Regions from separate parts of the Homo sapiens genome. Here all the other regions are linked to region 6. The links come from fine-mapping of genetic effects on gene expression. A gene starts in region 6. Each other region holds a variant in brackets. All regions are shown on one strand. Distances are between the middles of the regions. Region 1 overlaps ASAP2 (ArfGAP with SH3 domain, ankyrin repeat and PH domain 2). Region 2 overlaps IAH1 (isoamyl acetate hydrolyzing esterase 1 (putative)). Region 3 overlaps ASAP2 (ArfGAP with SH3 domain, ankyrin repeat and PH domain 2). Region 4 overlaps ASAP2 (ArfGAP with SH3 domain, ankyrin repeat and PH domain 2). Region 5 overlaps ASAP2 (ArfGAP with SH3 domain, ankyrin repeat and PH domain 2). Region 6 holds the start of ITGB1BP1 (integrin subunit beta 1 binding protein 1). Region 7 overlaps ASAP2 (ArfGAP with SH3 domain, ankyrin repeat and PH domain 2).

Region 1 (4,066 bases), 140 kb after region 6:
TCTTCCTATACAGGAATTGCCTTTGGTCTTTATTCTCGTGATCAAAACACTATGGGGACTTCTCCTTTGGAACCAGCTGCCTTCAGAGCCCATGACTGTAGTTACAGTGCACCGAAGCCAACTGTGGTCGCTGGCACTCAGTCCCTTCTTGAATATGCCTGACTTATTTCTGACATCTAGTTCTAAAAAAATTTAATCTATCCTTAGACTTCTCTACTAAATATATGCAAAAGAACGTGCTACTAAAAGCAGTTCTAAAGAGTTCTAAAGACACTGTGAATGATGTCATCAACATGACAGGAGAAAGTATCACGTTTCCTCAGGTGACTTCTTTGCAGTAGACAACGCTTGTTCCGAAATAAAGATTTCAGGATCAGGCTCTGGTTTTAGGACTTAGGACTTTTCAGGACTCAGACTCATGACCTTAGAATAACTCAAACTTGGCATGACATAATAGATGGCTAAAGGATGACAAAAATAGGAGACCCCCTCCAAGGTCACATGCCAGGCTGTTATGTGCGGGGCCTCAAAAAGGACATGAGCCCAAGGAGCTACGTTAAAATCCCAGCCCTGTCACTGTAGAGCTTTGTGACTTTGAACAAACTTCTCAACTTCCTTGGACCTCAGTTTTCTTTCATAAAGTGGCAAATGCTATTTTAAGCAAACAGCAGAGCATGAGCAGAGGGAAGAAGGCATAAAACGTGGCTCTCTGGGGAAAACTGCAAGTTATTTCAAAGAAGGGCACAGAGGAGTCCAGGTGGGGAGGGTCGGGACAGGTGGCCTGAGTCCAGGCAATGCACAAGAGCTCGGAACTCATCTGGTGCTCTGCAGTATTTACTCACCTGAGGCTCACAGTGGGGTGATCAGGGGAGGCAGTGACAGTTTCATCGACAGATGAATTGGGAAAGGGTTAAGAACGATAACCACTCACAATCCACATTACTAGCACATTAAAATCTTTGGATGGATCTGTGGTAAGAGAACCATCTTTATCCCAATTGCCCTAAAATTCTGAAGCCCACAGAGGCCTTCCTTCTCTCTCCCATGCTCTGGAACTGACTTCCACGAACTTCAAAGAGGGTGATGAAAAAATGCTATAGAGTTTTAGGCAGAGAAGTAACACCAGTGGGGTTGCATTTTAGCAAACGACGCTTGGGGGTGGTTAGAAATAGGAATGAGGTTTGTGGTACACGCTCAGCAATATAGGTCAGCATGGCAAATTAGACAGAGGTGCTGTTAAATTCCTGCAGGCCAGCTTCCTGACACCGAAGCACTAGCGCCTTCTCCCTTCAAATGCAGGGCTGTTTATAAGCTGTACTGCCAGCCACTGGGCCAGCCTTGGGAGTCACACAAGTCTCTCCTCCAGACGAGCAGCAGCTACACAGCCAGTGTTTGCATAAGACACAGATTATTTCATTTTTATTTCTGATAAGAGCAACCTTTTCAACATATGACTATAAAATCATTTTTGAGTCTGACCAGAATATCAAATATCCCTCAAGTTATAAACTCAAAAAGTCCAAGTGAACGCAGTAAAAAAAAAAAAAATCTTCCAAGATACTTTTTGAAATCTGGTGCTTGTCAATGAAACTGGGCGTACCATTTCTTAGTGACTCACTGAAGTCTTCAAGATGTCACCCGTGTGACAGACACACTGAAGGCATGGTGGCTTTGAAACAGAGTGGGCCACTCACTGCACACAACCCTGACACAGCAGTAAGACCATCAGGGTCTGAGCTCCAGCTGCACAGACATCTTGGGAACACCCAGAACTCTCTGATTTGCAGGTTACTCATTTGTATAAGGAGAATCAGTTGTTGACAAGATTAGCACAATGTACAGAAAGCACAAGATACACAGTAAGTGTTCAAAAAAATCAAAACTATCATTATTGCTCCCTGCCCCACACTTAATCCAGGTAAAAAAGCTAGAGACGGATGGCCACCTTCTGTATCAGTTTTAGAAAAGGCCTGTCAATTTCCGCTGCTGTAATTCTGACTGGGGTTGGGGTGAATCTTCAGATCAGTTTGGGGAGGCCTGACACTAACAGTGGTGACTCTTCTAACCCCTGTGCATCACATATTTCTCATTTAGGTCTTCTTTCATTTTGGTCAGCAGCGTTTTGTACTTGTTGATGTAGGATTCCTGTGCGTCTTCTGTTAAATTTGTTCCTAAATACACTTGGCAATGCTCAACTGTAACATTATCCTGCACCTGGGATTTCCTGCTAGATTCTTCCCGATTGTGGCTTGCACAGCTCTCATGGGGGGAGAATCAAGAGCGGCAACTGGAGCTTGTGCCCGCCCTATTGTAACTGGTGGGGGCGGTGGGGGGGAGCAGGTGGAATGTGTACTTCCAGGCTCTTCCCCTTCCCTCCTGACACCAC[G/A]ACCATCTAAGGCACTCCCTGTCCTCCTGTTCCAATCACCCCTTTCACTAAAGAAAGACACCACGAGGGTGAGGGGACACAGTATAGATGAAGGGACCTGACTACTTCAGTGGGAGCAGACCCCAGGCCCCTCCTCCTCCCACCCTGTCACCCAAACTCTATCTGCACCTGAGCACGGGCAAGCTCCCCTGAGCAACCCATCAGCCCTGTTTCAGTCTCTCAGGGACTCCTCACAGTTCCTAGCCCTGCAAGGATGCCACCTTTTTGTTGCTGAATGAAACTATATAGTCACTTAACGACTTTTAAAAAATATTTTGTATCACTCGTAGGATTTGTACAAGGGAAGGTATGCTACAGGTGACCTACTTGTCATCTTTAAGCCAAAAGTTGCATGGGTTTAAAAAATATATATGTGTAAATATATATGTGTAAAAAATATGTATGTGTAAATCTAGATCAAATATTACTTTATGTTTGTCTATTTATTCATTTTCTTCCTATACTAGAAAAGGCAAGACTGGGTAAAAGAGAAACGGAAAGGGCACTGTGACACAATTAACAGCAAAAACCAAATGACAGAGGCAGGAATGAATCCAGGCCCCCATCAGCCAGGCTGACAAAGTGGGTACGTGCAGGACGATGCTCCAGAAAACAGGAAGTGCAACGTGGGACAGACAGCACGGAGGATGACAGGGGATGACAGGGGACGAAATCCCACACCTGAATCAGACGACTGGCAAAACAAAACATACTTCTGAAAAAGAAACATCCCAGCTCACCTCTGTGATCTGCATGCCCCGATAAAGGAGTCTAGCTGGCTCATTTGTTAATGGTCATCAATATTACGGTACCAGGACTTCAAATGCGACATTTTCCACACAGAAACCTCTAGGGAAGGATGTATACTCACCCAGCCCAGAGCTGTTGATTGCTTTCACGGATTTCTTCATTTTGTAAAGAACCATCCGGTCCACGTCCAAAGCCTAAAATGTAGAGAATACAGTCATTAAACCGTGTCTGTGCTGAGACCACGCTAGCAGCGAGCACCACGTTGAGTGCCACTCTGATTGCCTCTGCCAGGTCCCTAGGCACCTGTTTCTGGGAGACAAGCCTCCTCTGCCAGGTCCCTCGGCACCTGTTTCTGGGAGACAAGCCCTCAGTGTGGTGTGGAAGACTGGTTTCCAAATGGCACTAAGCAGAAGTTTGTTGGCAATTACTGAAAACCAACTCCTCCTCCTGCAGCATGCAAGCTGTCTCCTGCCCACAGCACCTGCTGGACGTGAGCCCTCTGCAGCGAAGTGAATTACTCCAGCCGAACCCTCCGTTCTCCTTGGTTACCAGCAAGGCTCCAGGATGCCCCTGCCTGCCAGGGACTCCTATCGTGCCTGCACCCCTTCCCCCTATAGAGCCCTAACAAGGTGGAGGCAACCCCACTCTGGATTTGGAAAAACCCAAATATCATTAGCTTGTAAGCTGTGTTAGAAGACGGGTCCTATTGCTTCCCGAGCCTCAGATTTCTTCTCCAGAAACCAGCAGGAACAATACCCACTTTGCAGGGTTGAATAATTAGATAGAGGTACTCTCATATATAATATTCAGCAAATGTTTATAGACCAGCTACTACACGGCAGTTGTCTATGGCACTCACAATGTCCAGCACATAGGAGGCGCTCAAACAGT
Region 2 (4,066 bases), 66 kb before region 6:
TTAGTTGCATGGATGGACATTTAAAGAGCTGTGCTGTCCCCTTCCCAAGCCATAAGGAGTGATTTAGCCATTCAACACTTAGTTAATATTTTGAGTTCAATTTCTCTCTTGGGATCTTACCTTGAGAGGTTTGAATCCTCTTTTGGGTCTTCAAATGGTAAGTAAGTTTTCAGGATGCTTGAAAGCTAGTAATTACTGTTTTTGCCATTAAAAGTAATGGCATTAATTACTTTTGCACCAACCTAGTATTTTTTAGTCACTTAGGTTGAGTGAGCCTCACCTAGCACTTTTTTCTTAGCATCACAGTGCCAACAGAATAAGAGGCTGTTTGATGGGTAAGGGTGGAGCTGTGAGGACCTCCGATTCATCTTTTATTCCTATCAATCAATTGAACCCATGTCTTTGCAGAACGTCGAAATGCTGAGCAGCATGGATTCTGCATCGGTTCGCATTATCAAACCCTTTCCTGCGCCCCAGACTCCAGGCCGCCTGCAGCCTGCCCCTGTGATCCCTTCGGCGCCAGCAGCTCCAAAACTGGACCACCAGAGAATGGACACCATCCAGGAAGACCCCAGCACAGACTCACATATGGACGAGGATGGGTTTGAGAAGGACCCCTTCCCAAATAGCAGCACAGCTGCCAAGTCATTTGAGGATCTCACGGACCATCCGGTCACCAGAAGTGAAAAGGCTGCCTCCTTTAAACTGCAGCGTCAGAATCGTGTTGACAGCAAAGAAACAGAGTGCTAATTTAGTTCTCAGCTCTTCTGACTTAAGTGTGCAAAATATTTTTATAGATTTGACCTACAAATCAATCACAGCTTGTATTTTGTGAAGACTGGGAAGTGACTTAGCAGATGCTGGTCATGTGTTTGAACTTCCTGCAGGTAAACAGTTCTTGTGTGGTTTGGCCCTTCTCCTTTTGAAAAGGTAAGGTGAAGGTGAATCTAGCTTATTTTGAGGCTTTCAGGTTTTAGTTTTTAAAATATCTTTTGACCTGTGGTGCAAAAGCAGAAAATACAGCTGGATTGGGTTATGAATATTTACGTTTTTGTAAATTAATCTTTTATATTGATAACAGCACTGACTAGGGAAATGATCAGTTTTTTTTTATACACTGTAATGAACCGCTGAATATGAGGCATTTGGCATTTATTTGTGATGACAACTGGAATAGTTTTTTTTTTTTTTTTTTTTTTTTGCCTTCAACTAAAAACAAAGGAGATAAATCTAGTATACATTGTCTCTAAATTGTGGGTCTATTTCTAGTTATTACCCAGAGTTTTTATGTAGCAGGGAAAATATATATCTAAATTTAGAAATCATTTGGGTTAATATGGCTCTTCATAATTCTAAGACTAATGCTCTCTAGAAACCTAACCACCTACCTTACAGTGAGGGCTATACATGGTAGCCAGTTGAATTTATGGAATCTACCAACTGTTTAGGGCCCTGATTTGCTGGGCAGTTTTTCTGTATTTTATAAGTATCTTCATGTATCCCTGTTACTGATAGGGATACATGCTCTTAGAAAATTCACTATTGGCTGGGAGTGGTGGCTCATGCCTGTAATCCCAGCACTTGGAGAGGCTGAGGTTGCGCCACTACACTCCAGCCTGGGTGACAGAGTGAGACTCTGCCTCAAAAAAAAAAAAAAAAAAAAAAAATTCACTATCTACAAACCTAGAATATTTAAAATACAAAGATTGCCTGTTTTCAAACACTATTGAATAAGAGGGTGAGATATTTCTTAACAACAACAACAACAAAAAAAACAGGTTGTTTTGAATGTGATGAGCCAGCCAGGAGATAGAATACTACCTGCCCTTAGGGTTGGGGGCTGTCCCCACAAGACTTGATACTTCAGAAACCCTTTTTATTGACCCACAAGCAGATATTTGAATTACTTCTTACTTTATTGCTCCAGGATTCTGGATGGGCTGCATTTACTGTGTGAAGGATAAAAATCATTAGCCTGGATTCTGATTTCTATAAATTGCCATTAAAAGCTTTTTTTCCCCTAAGAACTGAAATGTGCTCACCAGCCAAAACATTTTAACTTGTAAATTTTGAGGGCAGTTAACCAAACCTGTGACTAATCATATCTCCTCCTACCCCCCATTTCCAAGGACATTTGTTACTCAGATACTTGTTATACTAATACTTGAACTTGTACCTTATGGTATTTGCTATCTTTTAACTAGTCATGATATTCTTATACTTTAGTTACACTTTTGGAATTTGATACAAGGTTGAGTGGGGTGTGTGGGTGTATGTATGAGTGAAACAGTTCTCAAAAGAATGTAAGAAAAACCATTTTTATAAAATTGTGACTTTTTAAAAACATAGTCTTTGTCATTTATAGAATTAACAAGCTGCTCAGGGTATATTTTATAGCTGTAGCACTGATATCTGCATTAATAAATACTGTCGAAACACAATGGACCTAAGTATAAAAC[T/C]TCCCTGAAAAATCATCTAATACTTTTATTATTAATATCAGTGGCAAAGGTTTAAGCCTGAGGAAAAAAGCGTACCTCTACGTATTGACAACTTTGAGTTCTGTAGATAACAAGCAGATTTGGGTCTCCTGTGATTGGCTAATGGTCTCCATCTCCCAGCAGACTTAATTCAGGTTTTGCTTCTGCTACATCCCGCCAGTAAGGAAGCAGCAAAGGTAGAGAAGAGACCTTTTTCTCTATCAAAGGCCAGAGATGCGAGAACAAAAATTCATTCCCCTTTGGAGACAAATGTAGTCCATCTGATAAATAAGATGAGAAGTCCTAGAAGGGAGAGAAATCGGTTAAAGGTGGGTAACTGGCCACGTGTGGTAGCTCACCCCTGTCATTCCAACACTTTGGGGCCGAGGATTACTGGAAGACAGGAGTTTGAGACCCTGTCTCTACAAAAAATTTTAAAAATACAAAAATTAGCTGGGTGTGGTGGCAAACACCTGTATTCCCACCTACTTGGGAGGCGAAGATGGGAGGATCACTTAAGCCCAGGAGTTGGAGGCTACAGTGAGGTATCATTGCACCACTGAGTTCCAGCCTGGGTGATAGACTGTCTCCCCCCACAGCGCGCGCGCGCGCGCGCACACACACACACACACACACACACACACACACACACACACACACAAAAAGGCCGGGGAGGGAGGGTATAACTTTTCTAAATGCCAGTGTGTACCATTCTCTCATTTGTGGCCCTGCGACAGAAATATCACCAGCCCCTTTCATTGTAGGCATCTGACCAGAGGTGTCTTGGACTACAGTAGCACTGATGTGCTATTTACGTAGGTGTTTGAACACACAGAGAACCCTGACTAGTGCTATAGTGCTGTCTCCATATTATAGAATTGAGTTTCATGAAAGTCACTCACCATTAAGTGAGCTGGGACCTCATTCCAGGTCTTCTGAATCATATGACATGATTCTCAGGTTATTTGAAAGAACCTTAACAGGTAAATATGGCCTATTAACGTAATCAGCAAAAATGAAAAATTTGGTATTAGGAGTGTTCAGGGGCCCCATGAGTCAATATTGTTTTTGACTCTAGGCAGGTTTTTAGGCAGAAAGAACTTCTACCATCTAACCTAGAACAGTAATTGCTGGGACACAGGAGTCCAGTCTCCCTCCCATTGCCCTGAACTCAAGAGTACATATTTAAAAAGATACACATATTTTTGGAGACAGGGTCTTGCTTTGCTGCCCAGGCTGGAGTGCAGTGACATGATCATGGCTCACTGCAGCCTCAACCTCCTGGGCTCAAGCGATCTTTCTAACCTCAGCCCCCTGAGCAGCTGGGACTACAGGCACGTGCCACCATACCTGGCTACCTGGCTAATTTTTGTGCTTTTTGTAGAGATGGGTCTCTCATTATGTTGCCCAGGCTGGTTTTGAACTCCTAGGCTCAAGCAATACTCCCACCTTGGCCTCACAAAGTATTGGGATCACAGGCATGAGCAGCCATACCAGGCCCTGAACTATAAGAATTTTACCCATACAGCCATTTCTTTCTTGGGGAAGAATCTCACTAGCCAAGAGCTCTGTTAGAATCTGGGTGGCCA
Region 3 (4,066 bases), 110 kb after region 6:
TCTGAAGGACAGAGAGACAAAGTTGGCTCATGCCTGACGACTGCGACCTTCCCAGCAGGAAAATACACCCTTGCTAGGATCCTTTCCCAGTGCTAAATGGGCAACGTGCCAGCTAGAAAGCCCGACTCCTCCCACAGGTTTCCCTGCTCCCTGGAGAGACCGAAACTCTTTACTTTTTCCAAAATAGCAGTTTTCTTTCCCTTCCCAGTCTCCTCCCCTCACCAACTTTGTTGTGCCAACAGGACGGCCAGAAAGGCCAGAAGTCACCACCTTTTTGGCTGAAAGGTGGTCCCAAGATGGCAAATCAGAGGAAGCTGAGATAAAAGAGCCATCCTATCGTCCCAATGAGAACGTACTGGCGTGGCTGCTGCCCGGCAGGCCAAGCTACTGTGACTCTACATGGTGTAAAAGCTGCCCCTGGTGTCACAGTGTCAATGTCATACCCCTTTCACTCCTTTCAGGTCCCCCTTCAGCAAACTGTCCAAAGGGAAGGAGATTATGTTGTTCATATTCTGAATCTAAAAAACAAAAACAAAAGGAGATTCTTATTCAGCTTCCTTGTGAATCTAAAGTAAGGACAGCAAGGACATTAGAGAGAACATTTGATAATGATTCACCTCCACCTAAAACCTGGCCGGTGCATGTACTGTGCCTTATTCAGTCATACATTCTTTGTAACAATTTCATCTTACAAATGAATAGAGGGCTAATGAAAAGTCTAGGTCTGTATATATTTCACAGTAACAATCTTATATTGTTATGCTAGAAAGTTTGTAAAGAGACAATCATTGCAGTGAAGAAAAAATATTTCAAAACATTCAATGACAGAATTACGTCGAAAGCCTAGAATAAAAGGAAACCCCCACTTCTGACTCTCAATCACGGCTCCACCCATAAGCTGGACTGTACTGGGGTTGGTGCTCTGGGCCCCAGGCCCCAGTCTCCACAGCAAGCTCCAAGCAGGGGAAACAAAGGCAGAGTCTTCTGTCTGCTGCAAAGGCACACGAGCGAATGCTGGGTGCGAATGAGAAAAGACGTGTGTGTGTTGGGGACGGAGAGTGTGTGTCAATGAGTGTGTACGACTGAGTGAGGGTGTTGTGGGTGTGTAAAGGTGTGACTGTGCTTGAGTATAAGAGTGAATGCACATGAGGGTGTATGTGAGTGAATGTGGGTATGAGTGATCGTGTAGGTGTGTGAGGGAGCATGTTAAGGGACTAAGGGTGTGATTGTGTGAGTGTGTGAATGCGATTGTGTATGGGTGTGTGAGGGTGTGATTGTGTACGGATGTGAGTGTGAGTGTGGATGTGAGTGTGAATGTGATTGTGTATGGGTGTGTGTGGGCGTGTGAGGGTTTCAGGATGTGATTATGGATGTGAGTGATTGTGTAAGTGTGTAAATGTGTGTATGGGTGTGTGTGGGTGTGATTGTGGATGTGAGTGCGTGAATGTGATTGTGTACGGGTGTGTGGGTGTGTGAGAGTGTGATTGTGGATGTGAGAGATTGTGTGGATTTGAGTGTGGGGTGTGATTGTGGGGGTGTAAGTGGGTGTGTAAGGGTGTAAGTGACTGAGTATAAGGTGAATGCACATGTGTGTGTGAGAATGTGAGTATGTGTAGGTGTGTGAGGGAGCATGTGTGTGTTTGAGGGTGTGTGTGTGGATGTGAGTTGGGGGTGAATGTGAATGATTGTGTGAGGGTGTGTGTGAGTGAAGATATGATTGTGTGAGTGGATGTGGGGGGCTGTGATTGTGAGGGTGTGAGGGTGTGGATATGAGTGTGTGTGATGCACGGGGTGTGTATGAGTGTGGTTGTGTGATTGTGTGAGTGTGGATGTGAGTGGGTGTGATTGCGTGGGGTGTGTGTTGAGTGTGGTGAGAGTGTGGATGTGAGTGGGTGTGATTGGGATGTGTGTTGTGTGGTTGTGATTGCGTGGGGTATGAGTGTGGTTGAGTGTGTGTGTGGATGTGATTTTGTGTGGTTGTGTGGAGTGTGGATGTGAGTGATTGGGAATGATTGCATGTTGTGTGAGTGTGGTTGTGAGAGTGTATGAGAGTGGACATGAGAGGGTGTGA[C/T]GGGGGGTGTGTGGGAGGGTGTGAGAGTGAGGGTGTGATTGTGAGGGGGTGTGTGTTGGGGGGGTGTTGCTAGGCAAAGGAGATAAAAGGGAACAGGAAGGGCAAGAGCCTTGGTGCCCCCATTCTTCTCCCTGAAGCAAGAAGGCAGGAGAGTGGGGACACACACCGTCCGCATGGATTAAATTGGGTGGAATGGAAGCCTCCTAACCAACAGGTACACGAGGAGCAAGCAAGTCTCCGTGACAGCAGTTCAAATGCGAGTCAACTCAAGATGCGAAACTTCAGTCAGGAAGAGCCTTCAAGTACGGACTCAGAGCCCTGAGCCTGAAAAGATTCCCTCCCTCAAGTGGAAAACGAGCTCGAAACCCACTTTCGCACTTCCCAGGCTTGGACCACTCCCCTGAATCAACCCAAGGGCCAGTTCCCACTGCTGGGCCCCTGTGGCTTCTGTGACACTCTGGGCTTCTAGATTACAGGCCCAGAGAAGGAGAAGGACGAGAAGAGGGACTTGGGACCTTATGTATTCATTCATACCATCAAGCAAAGGAAAGTTTTATTTTTAGTATAATTATCTTAAATAGGAAGATAAAATGGCACCACTTTTAAAGCAATATGGCATCCGATTTCTATACACCATTCAGTGTACTAATTTTTTTTTCTTTTTTTTTGAAACAGGGTCTCACTGTGTCGCCCAGGTTGGAGGGCACTTCAGCCTCAACTTCTTGAGCTCAGGCGATCCTCCCACCTTAGCCTCCTGAGTAGCTGGGACTATAGGCACGGGCCAACATGCTTGGCTAATTTTTTTTTTGTAGTTTTTGTAGACAGGGTTTCACTGTGTTGCTCAGGCTAGTCTTGAACTCCTAGACTTAAGCAATCTGCCCTCCTCGGCCTCTCAAAGTGCTGGGATTACAGGCATGAGCCACCACGCCTGGACTAAATTTTACATTAGAAACAGAAATGTACTTGGAAAACACTGGTAAGGTGTATAATAACGTCTGCATCCACAGCCAATTCTGCTAAATAAATGATCAATTAATGACTGTCATTTCAGAAATAAACTTTTTTGGGGAACTTTTGCCCTAGGATTAAACAACTCAACATTTCTCACGTACCTGGCCTTCCTCCAAGGTACAATGTCATCAGCTATGTCTTGCTAAGATCAGCCTTAAGCATTAAATTTTTAAATGCTGAAAAGCGCAGTTTAAGGTGCGGTCTTAGGAACGACTGGAAGGAACAAGGACAAACAGAAGGCCGTGCTGATGAGTAACCTACGACAGCAAGCACGCCTAGATTTCCACTGTCATTGACAGTCCTGGCAGCCAGACAGGTGAGTGAGGAATGAAACTCCCGTCACAGTTCCCGCCTCCAGGGCCACATTTCCCTCTACTTGCAGGCAGCCCCAAGTATGCAGCCAGCTCTCCTTCCTCCAATGCTCTTCCTTCCTACAAAGCCCTCTCTCCCACCCTCCTCACTTGCTTGACACCCAAGAGTCATCTCTGACCCCAGTGCTGCCACCCAGCCGTGCGGCACGCTTCTCAACAAATTCCAGGTCTTAACCCTACATACGCAGACCCGTCTTCCAACATTCCCTCCATGCCATTCTCACGTCCACTGCCTTGGCTGCGCCTCACTGCTCCTTCTCAGGACTAAGGCTATGGCTTCCCCTGCTCCCTGCTGCCGCTTCCTAGTCTCTGCCTGCCCCACTCCCCGCTTCAGGGCTATGGCAGGCTTGTCTGGGGTTGTGTCCCTAATAAAGACTAAACTACTTATTCCTGCATTTCACACTCTCCACAATCCATCCTTATTTTCCATGTTTCATCTTCATATTTCTCCAAACTGAACTCTCTCCTTCCCTGATTCTACGCATGTGCTCAATTTGTTCTATTCGACGGAAACGTCTTCCCTATCCCTGCTGTTCAAAGCCTTCTCATCCATCAGGAGTTACTCAAACGCCACCTTCTCTACTAAGCAACCCCAGCAGAATGTGATCCCTCC
Region 4 (4,066 bases), 48 kb after region 6:
GAAAACGAGTGCCTCCCTTAATTTCAGAACACCTACCTGTTCTGAACTAAAAAGTCTACAATGTGAAGAGAGGTTCGATCCACGGATCTGACTGCAAGGTGGAGGGCCGTTTCATCCGGCTCCTGAAAAACCAAACAAAGGCATTCCAGAATTCTAATGGGAGCATTCAATTCTGTGTCCAACACCGGTGAAATCGTGTACAACTCTTCCAAAAGTCTTTTATCTTTCCCTTCGAGAAACTTATCTCTTACATAGAGTCTCTTTAATCTCTACACAAGCTCTTTGCCCTTGGGAACGTGCAATTTGGAGATTCGTCCTGTTTCTCCTGACTCCATGGGAAATAAATGAGAAGTTCAGGAGTTTCATTTCTAAGTCCTCTCAATCGACCTGTCCCCATCCCTGCATCAGCACCACAAGGCAGATCCCTGCCTGCAAGCAAGAATCTTGTTCAAAGGATCCAGGAAGGTCCCCCAGGCCACCTACAATCCAATCTCTTTACCTGCTCCTTGAGTAGAAACATATGTTTCTTAAGCAGGCTTAAAGTTTTGCGTTCTACACTTACAGACAAGGCTACGAATGCTAATAACTGCACTGTCTCCAACTCATACTGGGGATTCCCCAACTCCACTGCCTTTTCTGAAAGTACACCTGGCAGGTGGGGGAGAAGAGATGAACAAGGATTGTTTCAGCAGGTGGGTGGGTGAGAGAACCAGAGGAGAAGGACAGATACAGAAGACAGGAGGTGAGGGCAAAGGAAGGTGCTTCCCAGGCCGCCTGCCCTGCCTGCTGGGCCCTCTGGCGGCAGCACAGCTCAGTGCTGGGCACCCTCCACACTGCATTGGTGGGCATGAGTTCTTTCTGGGGATGGGGAGAGAGTGGGACCAGCTCAGAGCCTGCACGGACATGCCTGTTACCAAGAGAAAGATGCTGCAGCCGTGAGGCATCCTTGCTGATAGGCAGCCAGCCCAGTCCTGAGGTCAGGAGGTTCCAGGGGACCAAATGTGCATCTACAGGGTATTTGTGGACCAGAATCTGGACACATGCCACCCCACTTGGGTGCTGGTATGTTACTGCAAACCCACTCCAGCTGGATGCCCACCCTCTCAAGACAGCTCCCCCAGGAAAGGAGGGGTCTTGCTCCTACTCTATTCCCTCTGAGGGGGAGCACAGTGGGGTGTGGGTTCCAGGGAACCGCCCCTCTCAGAGAGCTTCTCTCGTTAGCATGAAGCTCAGGTTAAACCTGCTTGCAGATGAGGGGTCCCTCTCAGGCTGCCTAGCTTCTGAGATGTCTTCTCCTCCACCTGGAGATGGGTTTTCTTTCCAGAGCTGGCATTACATTTTTGGTGTAAGAATAAACCACTAGGTGGGTACAAAGTTTTAGACAAGGAGAATAAATCCTGCAGATCTACTACAAAGCCTGGTGACTCCAGGTAAGACTACATAGCGTCTATTTCAAAACTGAGTCGATTTTAAATGTGCTCTCCATTAAAAATGGATGAGCCTGTGAGGTAATGGATATGTTAGCTAGCTTGATGTAATCATTCCATGATGTAAACATAGATCAAAAACATCACAGCATACCCCATGAACATAGATACAATTATTTTCCTACTGAAAAGAAAAA[A/C]CCCTAGTTTATTCTACCCCAGTACCCCTCTCCGTGCCGTCTTCCTCTGGAGAATTACCCAGCTTTGGTCAGTACTGCTGATTCCACAGACCTGCCACAGTGCCCCAGTTTTCCTTTTTTTTTGAGACAAGGTCTCACTCTGTCGGCCAGGCTGGAGTCCAGTGGCACAATCACGGCTCACTGGAGTTTCAAATTTCTGGGCTCAACCGATTCCTCTCACCCCAGCCTCCTGAGTAGCTGGGACTACAAATGTACACCACCATGCCTGGCCAATTTTACTTTTTTTTTTTTTTTTTTTTGTAGAGATGGGGCCTCCCTATGGTGCCCAGGCTGATCTCAAACTCCTGAGCTCAAAGGATCCTCCGCCTTGGCCTCCTGAAGTAAAGTACTGGATCCCAGGCATGAGCCACCGTGGCCGGCCTTTTTTTTTTTTTTAAAGTAGCAACAACCCACACTCTTACATGTCCGTTGGCCAGTGGGATTTTTTCCGTAAGATCCACACCATCAGCATAAGCTTGGAGCAATCCAAAAATATCTCTCGTTTTGACGGCCTCGCAAAGACTGTGAAGCTTCGCCGCGTTATCCGCGTGCTTCTTCCTTGCGTATCTCCTCTCGATGTACTTGGCTGTGATGTAGTCCTTTCTTGCATTCCTGAAACCAAACGTAATTGCCTTGCAAATCATGAAGGGCTTCTACCCGCCGTCCGGCCTCCCTTTGTCTAAGGCCATGTTAACGGTTCCTGCGCCATGTCCCTGGTAAGCACCGCTGGCCCCGAAACACAAAGCGGGAGTGGCCGCCATGTGGTTCTACGGCTGCACTGGTCTTCACTGCGACCTCCTGGGAACTGGCCAGGGGGACAACTCCCCATGTTCTCTCAGCCCACCCGCCTCTCTGCCTTGTCTCCCTCCCCTCACTCCTAAGTTCTGTGATCTGACCTCACTGTCGCCCTCGTCACCTCCACACCCTTCTTATTCAGGTCCTTCCAATCCGCATGCCCTGCGCCTCCTCCCCCAGGAAGGCCCTGCCCCTGCCCTCCATGCAGCCCTGGCCAACCTCTGTTCCAACATTCTCTACATGAAGGCCTGCCTGCCTCACTGCCCGACAGGCCCATGAGCTCCTTGGGGCATGGACTATGACCTCTTTTTTGTAGGCACCATGCCTGGTATGAAAGGCACTATCAGATGAACTGAAATGAAATGGCAGTCCTCTTTGTGTTCTACTTTCTGGCCTTTATGTGGCAACATGCTCAGACTCCGCCCCATCCAAAGAGCCTACAGAAGCAGGAACAAAAGGGGGCCAAAGAAGCCTGAGTTCAAATCCCACTCCCACCACACACTGCTGCTTTGAACTTGAATAAGTATTTCATCTCTCTAGACTTGTAAGTCTGACTTGCGAAAATGCACACAATACATCCTCACAGTAGCACCATGAGACGTATGTGCGTCAACACACCTGCAGCACACACAGTGGGTCCCGGGCCTTGGAAAGACCCAGTGAACTTACAAGAGGGAGAGCGAAACAGCAGCTCACTGGTCACAGAGTACATGCATTTTACAATCCCAATTCTGAAGGTTGAGGGTCACTGCCCAGGGACTCTTTGAATCTTGAGAATCAGGCAAGAGCCAGGCAGGGGCAGATCAGTTGCATCCATTTGTAACACAGCACTGCCTACAATCTGAGGACAAATGCGGCTGCTCCCCTTCGAGCTGGAGTCCCCGCACGGTTCCCTCCTGACCTCCGCTCTCTCACTCAGCTGACTATGGCAAGGGGCCATGGCTGCTGGAGCAGTTGTTGACTTTTCTGTACCTGCCCTAAATCCCCGTGGAACAACTGGCCCCCCAGAAGGGGAGCCTGAGCTCCCTGGACATGCCACTGGAGGCAGGGAGTAGAGATCCTGTCTACCCTGGGGTCCCTTGAAGATGGGCCAGCCTAAGATGAGAAGCCATTACTCCCACAGCACCCAGACGGAACTGAGTGGGCAGAGGTCTCTTGCCAGCGTCTGCCAGGCCTCAAATCTGCTTGTCCTTGGGTGCATGTGGCTCCTGGACACGCCGCAGCGTGAGGCTGGCTGGTGCAGCTGGAGAGGAAATCACGCCCCAGGGTGCCCGTTCCACCTGAGCAGGCAGCATGCTTCACAGCCCAGGAAGGACTTCCAGGGGCACCTGGTGAACTTGTGCTCTGGCACTTTTATCACACTGCCTCCCTCCTGCTCCGGCTCCAGTTCTGCCCGCTCTACAGGGCCTAGGTTAAGGCGGGTGCCTCAACGTCCCCCGGCACATGCTCCCCGTCCACACAGCGCTAACCCGTGCACTGAGCTCACTGCGGTGCTGGCTGACTTGTGTGTGAGATACGTGGTCTCAGTGGGTTCCCTCAACAGTGCCATGAGTTTTCATCTCCACCTGTAGGCACAACAGGCCCTCGAATAACAGCATTTTGTTATAA
Region 5 (4,066 bases), 94 kb after region 6:
CAAACCTGAGCCCTGGAATCTGGTTTACACAGTGGCCTCTTCACCCTGGCGGAGCACAGCAGTGTGCAGAGGCCCGCGTGTACCCAGCAGGGCACAGCACCCAGCAGGCAAAGCTGTGCCCTTGGGGGCGAGAAGCGGAAACTGGGCGTGTGTGGTGGGGGAATGAGAGGCGCTCCCACACGTGGAAACACGCACGGCTGCGAGCTCTTACTCTGCAGCTGAGTTGCTCGAGCTCCACGTTGTACCCTCCAGAATGTGAATTGAGAAAGTCAAAGCTGCCTGACTGATTTGAAGAGCAGGCAGCGTACACACTCTCTCTCATATCCAAAAACGAAGTAATGGAAGATTCATATTTTTAAAGGTTACTGGGATCATGTCCATAAAAGGCCAACTACTTCACTTTTCCACAAGTGGTCTGTTGCTACCCAACTGACTGGTTTGGGCAAAATAAAGGGGCGGGGGAAGGAAATCCCAGAATAGCTTCTTCTTAAAAATAAAATATCAGCAAGGAAGCGACCCACTTCCTAAATTGCCTGACATAAGAACTGTAGAAGTAATTTGCATGCTCATCACAAAGTAAGAATTTTGAGTCTCCATAAAATAATTCATCTTGAAAACTATATAATTGCAAGGTCTTTTCCACCAAGTAGAGATGAGCTCTCTTTTTATATTTTTTAATATAAATTCATGGGGTACAAGTGCAGTTTTGTTATAGGCCTGGTGGTCAACTTAGGGCTTTTAGGGTATCCATCACCAGAATAACATACATTGTACCTACTAAGTATTAATAATTTCTCATCATCCCCACTCCCTTCACCCTCCTGAGACTCTGCTGTCACTCTACTCTCTACATCCATGGGTATGCCTTTCTTAGCACCCACTTAGGAGTGGGAACATGCGATATTTGTCTTTCTGCGGCTGGCTTGTTTCACTTAAGATAATGACTTTCAGTTCTATCCCTATTGCTGCAAAAGACATGATTTCACTCTTCTTTTTTTTAAATGGCTGAAGCTCTCTTTTAACTTTGGATGAACCACTCAGCACATCCTCCTTTGCCGCCTGACCTCAAGTGCTTTAGAAATGCAACATCATCAAAGCTGTATTAAGAATTCCAAAGCAGAGCTCAGTTCAATTCCACAGTGCAATTCACTGCTGCAAATACGTGCCAGGTAAATGTGCCACACACTGTAGATATAAAACAAATAAATGGCATGGCCCCTTCCTTAAGAGCATATAGTTCAGTGGCACAGAGACACAAGGAAGATGTCATCATGGAGACAAGCAGACGGTGTGGTGGCAACACAGGAGGAAGAAAAGGAATTCCAAAAGGAAGAAGCATCGCAAAGCAGGAATGATCCATAAGCTGGGTCCTAGGAGGAACAGAAGACAGGGAGGGCACAAAGGAAAGAGGCCTTCTAGGAAAAGAAACAATTCTGTACAAAGGTAGGCTGCTGGTGGCACAGCCTGCTCTGGGAAGGTAAGCAGACAGGCATGGCAATTCCACAAGGAAAAGATTTCTTGTCAGTCCACACCTTCCACTCCCGCTGTCACGAAGCCAGGTGGGCCATCGTCATCTCTGGTCTGCACAGGGACAGGAGCTGTGTACACAAGCAATTGCCCACATCCACCCTTGTCCTGTTTGGTTCCTTCTCCACAACACACAGAGTAATCTTGTTACAGCCGAGAAGCTTCCTGAAGCTGCTTCTAACCAACACCACTGTCTCTCTCCCCATCACTGTTTTGCCTTTTCATAAACTCAGTTAAATATTGGCTCGTGTTTCCTACTTGCCTCCCCCATGAGACCCCAGGGTCCGTGAAGGCAAGAACTTTGTTTTCCTCCTTACTGCATCACCAAAACCCCTAATAGCGCCTGGCAGATCACAGGAGTGCATACAAATGGTCCTCTGCTTCAATTTCTTCAAGAGCTTCCCAACATATTTGGGATAAAATCTAAAAACTTTTGCAAGATGTCTGGGGCCATCCACATCCCTAAGGCTTTTCCATGCAGTTTCGTTTCACGCCACTCTCCTTTTTCACTGAGCTTATGTCACCTTGGCCTTTTTCCTGCCTTAAGACCTAGACCCTGCCTGGAATGTTCTTCCCCCACT[C/T]CTTATCTGCCGGCTCCTACTCATACTTTAGATCTCAGATCCATGTCTCCTCAGAGAGGCCTGCAGCTCATTCAAGAAACAGCCGAGTACCTACTGTGTTCCGGGCACTGTGTGCTGGCTGTTGGAGACTGTATCAGGGAACAAAATAGAAAAACAAAAAACAAAAAACTCTACCCTAAATCTTTATCTAAATCAGGTCCCTGTATTATATTCTTTCTTAGATTCCTATACTTTAAAACAATTTTGTAAACATCTAATTAGAAATTTGTCTCTTTCAGTCTAACTTCCCTACTTGACTCTTTGAGTAGGAACTATGCCAGCACTGTACATCACTGTGTCTCTCGCCTCTGGTCCAGCACCTGACATGTGTGTTGGGTGGGTGAGTGAAGGAGCCAGAGGCCTGTCTATATCAGTGACTGGGGGTCGAGGAGCAGAAGCCAGGTCAGAGACGTGGGTCAGACTGAAGTACTGACACAGATGGCAAAGCTGAGTACTTGAGCAGCCCCTGCACGTGGAATCCTCTCCTTCTCCTCTACTAACATCTTCCTTTGCTCATCACAGTCATTGGCTCCACAGGATAATATATAAAAGTGTTTTCTTATTTTAAAACACTGCATTAACATCGTATCATTTCTCTTTTAACAAACATCTGAGAGTTGCGGAATAGGTCAAATGAGTTTGTCCCTCTACAAAAAGAGCCAAAAATAAATATATCTGGCAATTACTACAGATTTTTTATGTTGTATATATGCTTTTATTTTTAATTAAGATATAATCCCTAAGCCATAAAGCCATAAAATTCATCCTTTTAAAGTGATTTTTAGTAAATTCACAAAGTTGTGCAATCATTAGCACTCACTTCTGGAATATTTTCAATATCCCACAAAGAAACCCTATACCCGTTAGCAGCCATTTCCCATTTCCTTCTTCCTCCAAGCTGCGGCAATCACTCACCTGCTTTCTGTCTCTGTGGATGTACTTATTCCTGACCTTCCAAATAAATGGGATCATACAGTACATGGCCTCTTGTGTCTGGCTTCCTTCATTGAACGTGTTCTCAATGTTTACCCGTGTTGTCGCATGAGTCAGCACCTCATTCCCTTTACTATAGACTTCTAAGTGGTGTTTATTTCCTATGAGCTATCTATAGATCTACCAGAAGTTGCCACACATGAACAAACATTTAAGATAACATAACAGAGAAGAACTTACTTGCATTGGGCATGAAAGTATTTGATCAGATTCTGAAGTAAATCTACTCCCTTTTTAATCTTGATTTCGTTGACCTTCAGCAGATACTGTTGAACAATGAAAAGGAAATGTCATGGAAGTAAGCAGAATACGAGTTTAAAAGGAGCTTCTGAGGACTGAGATGATTTCTTCTACTTCTTTGGCATCTTTTACAATGCGTAGAGTGCATGATCGACACTTAGTATCGCCTGGATTCCGTAACCGTTTCTTTATTTTGGGGCCATATGAATTATCTGACAGTCAGATAATTAAATATTGAAGTGCCAAAAACTCCTAATAATAAGACAGTCTATCCTGGCCTGCTAGGAGAAATCTTCACTCTAGCTACATGGAAGACTATGGATGGTTCAAATAAATGGGATTTCTAACCATCTCAAACACACTCCTGCCCAAGGTCCCTTACTTTAGGAACAATAACTGCTAACGTATTGTAGCTGAGATGCTTGGCATCATGTCTCTCGTCCTGAGACATTTCCCTTACAAGGAAAATAATGTGATTGTTGGAAAAAAACAAAGTTTAATTGAAATGAATTAAAGCTATTTTTAACTTGGAGAATTCATTAGTGACCACGAAGCTATCAGAAAGCCTCAGGGAGCTACAAAACCAGTGTCAGGAAATAGAAGGACTTCATGAGTCCCCATCCCCTCCGCTGTCAGAAGATGATCTCTGAAATGGAATGTCCCCTGGAAAAGCTGCTGATTCATGC
Region 6 (4,059 bases):
GGAGAGATTTTCCTAAAACATAATTCCCACAATATCCATGCTTGCTTAATAGCCTTCGCTGGCTCCCTGTAATTGACTTGATAAAGGTCCAAACTCCTGTGTATACGAGGTGCTTCCTAAACTGGACCTCAACTGCCTGTCGCTTCATCTGCTAACTCAACTCTTTAGCTACAGCCATGAGGAATCTGGCCACAAGCTGTGACCACTCTCACTTTCATATGTGCCACTTCCACTGCCTAGAACATCCTGGGCCCCCCAGTCTTTAACTCCTACTCATTCTTTAGGACTCAGCTCAGGCATCACATTTTTCAGGATCCACGAGGTATCCTTTTTTCCTCAATCTGTCAGAAATCCCTTTTCCATACTTTCACAGTGCTCAGTGCAATGCCTGCCTGCGTTCTTAGATTAGCTATTATTTACAAAGCACCTACCGCGATGTTCACTCTTCAAGTTTTATCTTATTTCCATATGAGAAAACGGGTTCAGTGAGATTGTTGTCCTACTAATTGGTCAAGTAGATAATGGACTTCAGGTCTGACTTCAAAGTAATAGTCTCCTATTATTCCAAAGTATCTCTCCAATATTTCCCACTGTGCACTGTAATTCTCTCCAAAAGAGCGAGAGCAATTAACTGGGCCCTCTGTTGCGTCTATATCCCCATGTGTGGTGCTTGACACTTGCTCAGTGTTTGCTCATCACAGGAAGACATGACAGGTGTGAACTAAGCAGAAGGAAACGGACTATGTCCCAAGCAGGTGCTCAATGAAGCCTTACTGAATGATTGTGTAAAGGAGATACTTTCTACCTTTTGGAAAGCGTATATTCATGTTGTGCCAACTAGTATCTAACAATAAACATGTTGTGGGTTCGAAATGCTCATCTGTAGGAATTCAAGTTCTCTACATTTGCATCTCCCCTTCAGCAGCATTCCCGACTGATGAGGATCGTGTCCACTGAAAGGCCACTCTCCTTATGGACAGTCGAGGGCTGAGTTTTTGTCCCTAACACCTCTGCACTTTCTCTTCTCCAGCTTTACACCTTCCTTATTCTACTAGGGCCTGAGCTGAGAAGATCGAAACTCACGGCAAGTCCCTAATATTTTCTAACTTCTGGCACATGTGAAGCCCTGGTGTTAAGAAACAGACTTAATTCTTCCCTGCACGGCTGTAGCCTCATTCAGGTCCTCCTCTCATCCTGTCGGTCATAAGCTTCACCGGCTCCCTCACAGCTTGCCCTGACGCGCAGAGATCCGTGCTTGTGCTAAGTGAAAACGCTTCTTAGCGTGTACGAAAGCGAGCGGTGGCCCCGTAAAACTTTTTTTTTTCCGACTCCAACATACCCTCCCCTGAAACTGATGAAAAAGCAAAATCCCGTTCACTCTATAGCAGGCCCCTTCCGATCAACGGTCCTCCAACCCCTCGAGCCTGAGAAGCCTGGCCCGCAAGCGCGGACCAAAGGCAGGCTGCCGGGGTAGGTGGGAGCGCGGGCGACGGAGGAGGCCAGTCTCCGGTTACCCCTCGCGCCCCTCACAGCCCGTGGCTTCATTCCCTCTCTCGCTGGTCCCTTACAGGGGTCGGATCAGCAGCTGGTCGCTCTCCTCAGCAGGAATCGCAGACATCCCGAAAGTGTGAGGGCGAAGCGGGGGTGAGGAACAGGTCGCCGGGGTCTTCCTAAATTGGAAGCACAGCCACCGGTAAATAAAAAAGGAAGAACCCCATTCACCAAGAGCACAACTTCCGTCACTCCGGAGCCCGCGGCACTAGACTCCTCCCCTCGACTTCCGGTCGGGGGACGCCGCTCGCGAGGCTTCCCACCACTTGGGGTCTTGGAACCGGGGGTAGGACGTCAGGACTGCGCCTGCGCATAGTCTTGGAGGCGCGGCCCGGCGGACGTGGGCAGGAGGGCTGGAAAAGCCGGCGCTGGAGCGGGAACGGGAGTAGCTGCCTGGGCGCCAAAGGCCGCGGCACTCCCACGCGGACCCCGAAGTCCGCAACCCGGGGATGGGCCCGCGGCTGCGAGGTGAGCGCCCAGCCCTCGTCCCGCTTGGGGCCGAGCTCGCGGAGGCCTGACGGGAACACGGTCCCGAGAGCGGCGCGGACGGCCAGGAAGGATGGGTGGGGCCGCGGGGCGGGCGGAGGAGGGATGCCTGGGCTCGGGCTTGGTTCCGGGCGGGGCCGCGCTCCCGGGGCGCGGGTGGAGGAGCTTGGAACCACGCAGATCGGGCGTGGGCTTGCGGACTGCAGCTTCCCGAGCCGCTGTCGCCCCGGAGGGGCGGCAAGGCGGGCGGCCGCGGGCCGTTTCCTTGCCTCTTCCTCTGCCCCGCTTCGGCCGCCTCCCGCCTCTCAGGGTCGGGGTTGTCTGTCCCCTTCGCTGTCACATCCTCCGCACCCAGCGCTTGGAAGGTGCTCCATCACGGTGACAGACAGGTGCCAAGCAGGCTGGCGTCTGGGAGGAACTTCGGAGCCGGCTCTCCCTAGGCCCCGAGCTTGGCCGCATCCGTCCTTACTCTGGTGACCCTGGGCAGGTCACTGACTCTTCGGGCGCTTTGGCATCCTCGTTTGAAAGGGGCTGTTATCCTGCAGCCTTGCTGGTCGGTGAGGGTGAGGGTGAGAGGGATCTGTGCACCTAGCACCGTGCATGGCACGTGGTAGGCGTTTGGTACATGGGAATCGCTGTTGGGGTGTCACCTCCCCAGAAAGTTCTCGGCTTCAGTAAGCGCGTCCCCTGCCAGGCGCCCTGGCAATGCAGAGGAGTCACCGAGCTCCGCCTTTGACCAGCGTGCAGCTGGGAGAGTGAGATCAGAGACCACAGCAGATCGTGGCGCTGTGATCAGGGGGTACACTCAAGCTGTGGGTCCCTTACCCCAGCCTTGAGATCCCAGGAAGGCCTGCAGCCTGAAACGGGCCTTGAAAGGTAAGAAGTAGCCAAGTGCCTGACAGGTGAAGGACGTCCCGGGCGGTGCAAAGCAGGGGCGCGTGGAGCATCGCGCTGAGAACCAGGAGCAGCTTTGCCTTGCTGAGATCAATGAACTGTGCCCGGGTTGTGGAGGATGGAAGTGGAAAGGTGATTAGGAGCTGGGTCCTGGAGGACCTGGCGTGTCGTGCTGAAGAACGTTGACTTTGGTCTCTGACTTTGGAGAACCAGTGAAAGATTTTCAGCAGGCTAGTGGCATTAGATTCATGTTTGAAAGAAATCATTTTAATCGTTTTGGCTGCAGTGTGGGGGTAGATTTAAAGTGTTAGGGAATCCAGTAGGACAAGGTCCCTTATCCACGAAATATCCTTGGGTTTGTGAATTCCTTAAATTCATGCCAAACTTTGTATGGATGTGCATTTTTATAGGGTGAGGATCCATCACATTCATCAGTTTCTAAAAAAATAGTGTCTGTGCCCATGGTTTAGGATGACGGGGGCCCTGGTGGAGAGCTGGCTCAGAGAGCTCTTCAGGTGGGGTATACAGTGGGTCTTGGTGCCAGATTGGATGTGGGGCCTGAAGGACAGCAAGGAAATCATGATTTTCTGGCTTCCTCCAGCAATAATAGAATCTCCTGACAGGGAGAGGAGAGGAGAGGAGCAGATCTGGAGGGGAGGATGATGGGTTCAGCTTGAGACATCTTTGCATTTGATGAGCCTGCGGAGCATCCAATCGCCAATCAGGATCATTGGCCTCATTTTGATGCATGAATAATTTTTTTTTTTTTTTTTTGAGACGGAGTCTCGCTCTTTCGTCCAGGCTGGAGTGCAGTGGCGCGATCTCGGCTCACTGCAAGCTCCGCCTCCCGGGTTCACGCCATTCTCCTGCCTCAGGCTCCTGAGTAGCTGGGACTACAGGCGCCCACCACCACGCACAGCCAATTTTTTGTATTTTTAGTAGAGACGGGGTTTCACCATGTTAGCCAGGATGGTCTCGATCTCCTGACCTCGTGATCCGCCCGACTTGGCCTCCCAAAGTGCTGGGATTACAGGCGTGAGCCACCCATGAATAATTTTGAGGCAAGAATGATTTGCTTGAGAACATGCATCAAAATTGCAGCAGATATCAAAGACTTTAATAAATGCT
Region 7 (4,066 bases), 59 kb after region 6:
GAACCCCTCCAGACCCATCGACAAAAGCAAAGCATTTGCAAATGGAGGCTGCAGGTGCCAGCAGGACAGGCAGGCAGAAACCAAGGGGGCAGGAAGGTGGCTGTCGACCTGAGCCCTGGCATCTCCTGCTTCTCACTGGCACCCAGAAGGAATTTGTGGGCTGCACTGAGGCAGAAATTGAGCCAGACTGGATGGAGGAGAGGAGGGAGTGTTTAAGTTCTGTATCACCCAGGGTAGCTCAGCCCAGTCCGTCGCCCTTCCTGTGGCCTCAGGAGCACACTCTGAGCCCCTCGTCTGTGCTGGGCATGAGGCATGAGGCACCCTCCTGCTCTATGGCAGCTCACTTCAACAAGGTAGCGATGAGTCAATAAGAAGCCCTGGAAAAGAAGTTCATCCTGAACACTATGAGGACAGCGGCACCAGGCCCAGATGAGCAGAGCAGTCCCTTGGCCAGGAGGCCCCTTTTCTTGGCACTCACCATACGGGGGAGTCGTCTGTGTGTGGGCATCTCCCTCCCTGATGGCCACACCCAGGACAGAGACACAGAATCACACACCTGTACGTCCTTAGCACCTACCTGAGCAGGGCCCACTGAGCCAAAATGAAGCTTTAGGTTTTATCTGGACATTGTTTTGAGAGTTTGGGGTGGGGCAGGGAAACCTCCTGTCCTGTTTTCATGTCTCCATGAGGAAGGACAACAATTGCTGTGACATTCTTCTCTGACTCACCCCAGGAGAGAACAGGCAAGTGAGAGAAACCAGACTTCCCTGACCGCTGAGCTCAGGAGACCCCAAGGTCAGCTCCTCCCTGATGTTAACTGGGCCCCTTGGATCCCCGAAGGGTGGAGGGCCTGAAGAGTGCAGTCCAGCTCTAAAGTACAGAGGGTAAAGGCCCAGACAAGGGAAGGGGCTTGACCAAACTGCTGCCTCCAAAGCAAAGAGCACAAAAGGACACTCTGGTGTGCAGGGAAAAAGTTTACATATGATGTCTTTACCTGACCCTTTAAAAGCTCTATTTTTGATGTAGTTTACAAAGTATGTATTTCTTAGTAAGTGTAGGTACATCATATGTAAGTAAGTACATGCTTTGGTGCTCAATTTTTTCTGATAGACTTTGTGGTTTAAAAAATGTTCAGAATCTTGGCTTTAAAAAAAAAGGCTAAAACACAGGCTCTGGAGTCTGATAGTTGGAATGTAAATCCTGCACTGGGTAAGTTTCTTAACCTCTCTGGTCTTTTTTTAAAAATGGAGCTCTCCATTTAGGTTAGATAATACAGTGTACGTAGAACACCTACAACAATGCCTGGAGCATAACAGTTCCTCCGTAAATGACCACTGATAGTCAATTTCCTGTTGCCCTAAGCAATTGCTTTTAGTATCTGGGTGGCACATTTCAGTCCTAGGTGAACTTAGAAGACAGTTGTAAGTCGTTAAGTTCTTCGTCTTTGAGGAGCTTTCCTCTCCACATGCTCTCTTTCAGATCAGACTGTGTGTTGACCCGCTTTAACATTTGACAGCTTATTAACAACCGTATGAGAACAGAAATAGAAGAAAGTCAAGAAACAGAAAGCTGAGTCAGTAAATATTTGGTAATGCTCTTGATGCCTGTTTTTTAATTTGATGTTTTTTTGTTTTGAGACAGGGTCTTACTCTGTCACCCAGGCTGGAGAGCAGTGGCACAATCTCAGTTCACTATAGCCAACCTCCTGGGCTCAGGTGATTCTCCCACCTCAGCCTCCCTGATAGCTAGGACCACAGGCATGTACTACCATACTCAGCTAACTTTTTTTTTTTTGTAGAGATGGGGTTTTGCCATGTGGCCCAGGTTGGTCTTGAACTCATGGGCTCAAGTGATCTGCCTGCCTCAGCCTCCCAAAGTGCTGGAGCTATAGGTGTGAACCACTGCGCCTGGTCTCATAAGATTTTTAAATGACTGACTCAAATTCAATTTCAGAATATCAAGAATTCCTTTATTAACTTCATGTATGATAGTGAAATTGATCATGATAGTAGTACCCTAGTACCAGTGATACTGTTTTTCATATGACCTGAAAAATCAAAGCTGAAATCATGATCTTCTACATTAAGAAGGAAATTTATCTTTTTAAAATCTGTGTTTACCAGAAAGTTTTTCCCAAAGTAGGTTTGCTTTAGAATCTAAAGATATTAAGCTGGTGTGTGCTAAAGTAGTTAAGATGACATGATTCCCCAGAACTAATTAATAATTCAATTATGCAACTTCCATTCCATTGGAAAAGAAGTAATGCTAGGCTGCAGGCGGTTCATGCCTATAATCCCAGCACTTTGGGAAGCC[G/A]AGGCTGGAAGACCACTTAAGCCCAGGAATTCCAGATTAGCCTGGCCAATATAGTGAGACCCTGTCTCTATGGAAAAATTTTAAAAAATTAGCTGGGCATGGTGGCACATGCCTATAGTCCCAGCTACCCAGAAGGATTGCATGAGCCTGGGAGGTAGAGGCTGCACTGAACCGAGATGGCACCACTGCACTCCAGCCTGGGCGACAGAGCAAGAACCTGTCAAAAAAAAGAGAAAGAGAAGACCTACAAATGACCAACAGGTATATGTATGAAAAAGTACACAGCATTAATCATACAAATCATCAGGGAAATGCAAATTAAAACCACGATCATCTCACACCTGTTAGAATGGCTTTTATCAAAAAGACAAAAGATAGCAAGTGTTGGCAGGGATGTGGAGAAAAGGGAAGGCTTGCACACTGGGTGGGAATGTAAATTATTATAATACAACCATTATAGAAAATGGTTATGGAGGTTCCTCGAAAAACTAGAACCACCATATAACCCACTTCTGGGTATTTACCCAAAAGATCTGAAATCAGTTTGTTGAAGACACGTCTTCACCATCTTGTTTACTGCAGCACTATTCACAATAGTCGAGATAGGGAATCAACCTAAATGCCACCAATGGACGAATGGATTTTAAAAATGTGGTATATATACATAATGGAATACTATTCGACCTGAAAAAAAGGACATTCTGTCATTTGTGACAACATGGATGAACCTGAAGGACATTATACTAAGTGAAATAAGCCAGGCAAAGAAAGACAAATCCTGCAAGATCTCATTTATATGCAAAATCTAAAAAAGCTGAACTCATAGAAGTAGAGAGCAGAACTATGGTTACCAGGGGTTGGGGGTGGGCATGTTGGTCAAAGCATGCAAAATTTCAGTTAGGATGAATAAAGTCTAGGGATCTAGTGTACAACACAGTGACTCTACTTAATAATAACGTACTGTATACTTAAAAATTTTGTTTTGAGACAGTCTCACTCTGTTGCCCAGGCTGGAGTGCAGTGGCAAGATCACAGTTCACTGTAGCCTCAACTTCCTGGGTGCTCAGGTGATCCTCCTGCCTCAGCCTCCCAAGTAGCTGGGACCACAGGTACTTGCCACCACTCCCAGCTAGTTTTAAAAAATTATTTGTAGAGATGGAGGTCTCCCTATGTTGGTCAGGCTGGTCTTGAACTCCCAGACTCAAACAATCTTCTCACCTCAGCCTCCCAAAGTACTGGGATTACAGGCGCCGGCCACCACACCAGGCTCAAGAGAGTAGATTTTAAGTGTTCTCACCACAAAACATAAGCATGTGAGGTGACAGATATGTTAACTAGCTTGATTTAGTCACACCCAATGTATACAACATACTAAAACATCATGTTGTACACTATAAATACATGCAATAAAAAATTAATTAAAAAAATAAAATCCTTTGCTGTCACAGCATGTCACCCTGAAACAGAGGCTGTTCTATTTACCCAAAAGAGGAGAGATGCTACTCCTGTGAGAGAACCTGTCCAGGCTGCACCCACCACTCTCCTTTCACAAGGCACCAAGGGGCCTAATGAACACTCACTATACAATAAAACATACTTCAATAAGCAAGTCAGCCGAGGCCCTGCATGGCATGCAACTCTGAATTGGAAAGGTTCGTAAGAACAGACAACCAGACAGACCATGCATGGCCTCCCTGGGGGTTCACATGCTAGCACATGGGGACCATTTTTCTGAAAGGATTTTGTTAAAGGA

Evidence for each region. PIP is the estimated chance that this variant, and not a neighbour inherited with it, causes the effect. A credible set is the group of variants that fine-mapping cannot tell apart.
Region 1: its variant is the best candidate, but not a certain one, in a credible set for the expression of ITGB1BP1 in whole blood (TOPMed, PIP 0.58).
Region 2: its variant is the best candidate, but not a certain one, in a credible set for the expression of ITGB1BP1 in whole blood (INTERVAL, PIP 0.50).
Region 3: its variant is the best candidate, but not a certain one, in a credible set for the expression of ITGB1BP1 in lung (TOPMed, PIP 0.66).
Region 4: its variant is the best candidate, but not a certain one, in a credible set for the expression of ITGB1BP1 in monocytes after LPS (Fairfax 2014, PIP 0.82).
Region 5: its variant is the best candidate, but not a certain one, in a credible set for the expression of ITGB1BP1 in whole blood (TOPMed, PIP 0.54).
Region 7: its variant is the best candidate, but not a certain one, in a credible set for the expression of ITGB1BP1 in whole blood (TOPMed, PIP 0.83).

What each region holds. Positions count from the first base shown.
Region 1 is chr2:9,278,620-9,282,685 of GRCh38, reverse strand. It overlaps ASAP2 (ArfGAP with SH3 domain, ankyrin repeat and PH domain 2), which reads right to left. Exons shown (of 28, transcript NM_003887.3): 2 at 3,297-3,369. Among named protein-coding and RNA genes, the nearest start is that of ASAP2, 74 kb to the right of the region's middle. The variant G/A (reference allele first, on the strand shown) is at 2,387.
Region 2 is chr2:9,486,861-9,490,926 of GRCh38, reverse strand. IAH1 (isoamyl acetate hydrolyzing esterase 1 (putative)) reads right to left here. Exons shown (of 6, transcript NM_001039613.3): 6 at 1,185-2,780. The coding sequence ends at 2,598. It overlaps ADAM17 (ADAM metallopeptidase domain 17), which reads left to right. Exons shown (of 19, transcript NM_003183.6): 19 at 409-2,441. The coding sequence ends at 750. Among named protein-coding and RNA genes, the nearest start is that of IAH1, 14 kb to the right of the region's middle. The variant T/C (reference allele first, on the strand shown) is at 2,460.
Region 3 is chr2:9,314,976-9,319,041 of GRCh38, reverse strand. ASAP2 (ArfGAP with SH3 domain, ankyrin repeat and PH domain 2) reads right to left here. Exons shown (of 28, transcript NM_003887.3): 4 at 444-518. Among named protein-coding and RNA genes, the nearest start is that of ITGB1BP1, 110 kb to the left of the region's middle. The variant C/T (reference allele first, on the strand shown) is at 2,072.
Region 4 is chr2:9,372,964-9,377,029 of GRCh38, reverse strand. ASAP2 (ArfGAP with SH3 domain, ankyrin repeat and PH domain 2) reads right to left here. Exons shown (of 28, transcript NM_003887.3): 17 at 2,086-2,275; 18 at 37-122. Among named protein-coding and RNA genes, the nearest start is that of ITGB1BP1, 49 kb to the left of the region's middle. RefSeq lists enhancers at 2,467-3,015, 3,016-3,564. The variant A/C (reference allele first, on the strand shown) is at 1,625.
Region 5 is chr2:9,327,166-9,331,231 of GRCh38, reverse strand. It overlaps ASAP2 (ArfGAP with SH3 domain, ankyrin repeat and PH domain 2), which reads right to left. Exons shown (of 28, transcript NM_003887.3): 7 at 3,321-3,406. Among named protein-coding and RNA genes, the nearest start is that of ITGB1BP1, 94 kb to the left of the region's middle. The variant C/T (reference allele first, on the strand shown) is at 2,109.
Region 6 is chr2:9,421,333-9,425,391 of GRCh38, reverse strand. ITGB1BP1 (integrin subunit beta 1 binding protein 1) reads left to right here and starts at 1,864. Exons shown (of 7, transcript NM_004763.5): 1 at 1,864-2,019. CPSF3 (cleavage and polyadenylation specific factor 3) reads right to left here and starts at 1,738. Exons shown (of 18, transcript NM_016207.4): 1 at 1,569-1,738. The coding sequence starts at 1,618. RefSeq lists enhancers at 1,502-1,551, 1,592-1,641, 2,512-2,561, 2,555-3,413 and a silencer at 2,072-2,371.
Region 7 is chr2:9,362,073-9,366,138 of GRCh38, reverse strand. All of the region lies in intron 15 of ASAP2 (ArfGAP with SH3 domain, ankyrin repeat and PH domain 2), which reads right to left. Among named protein-coding and RNA genes, the nearest start is that of ITGB1BP1, 59 kb to the left of the region's middle. RefSeq lists an enhancer at 665-959. The variant G/A (reference allele first, on the strand shown) is at 2,314.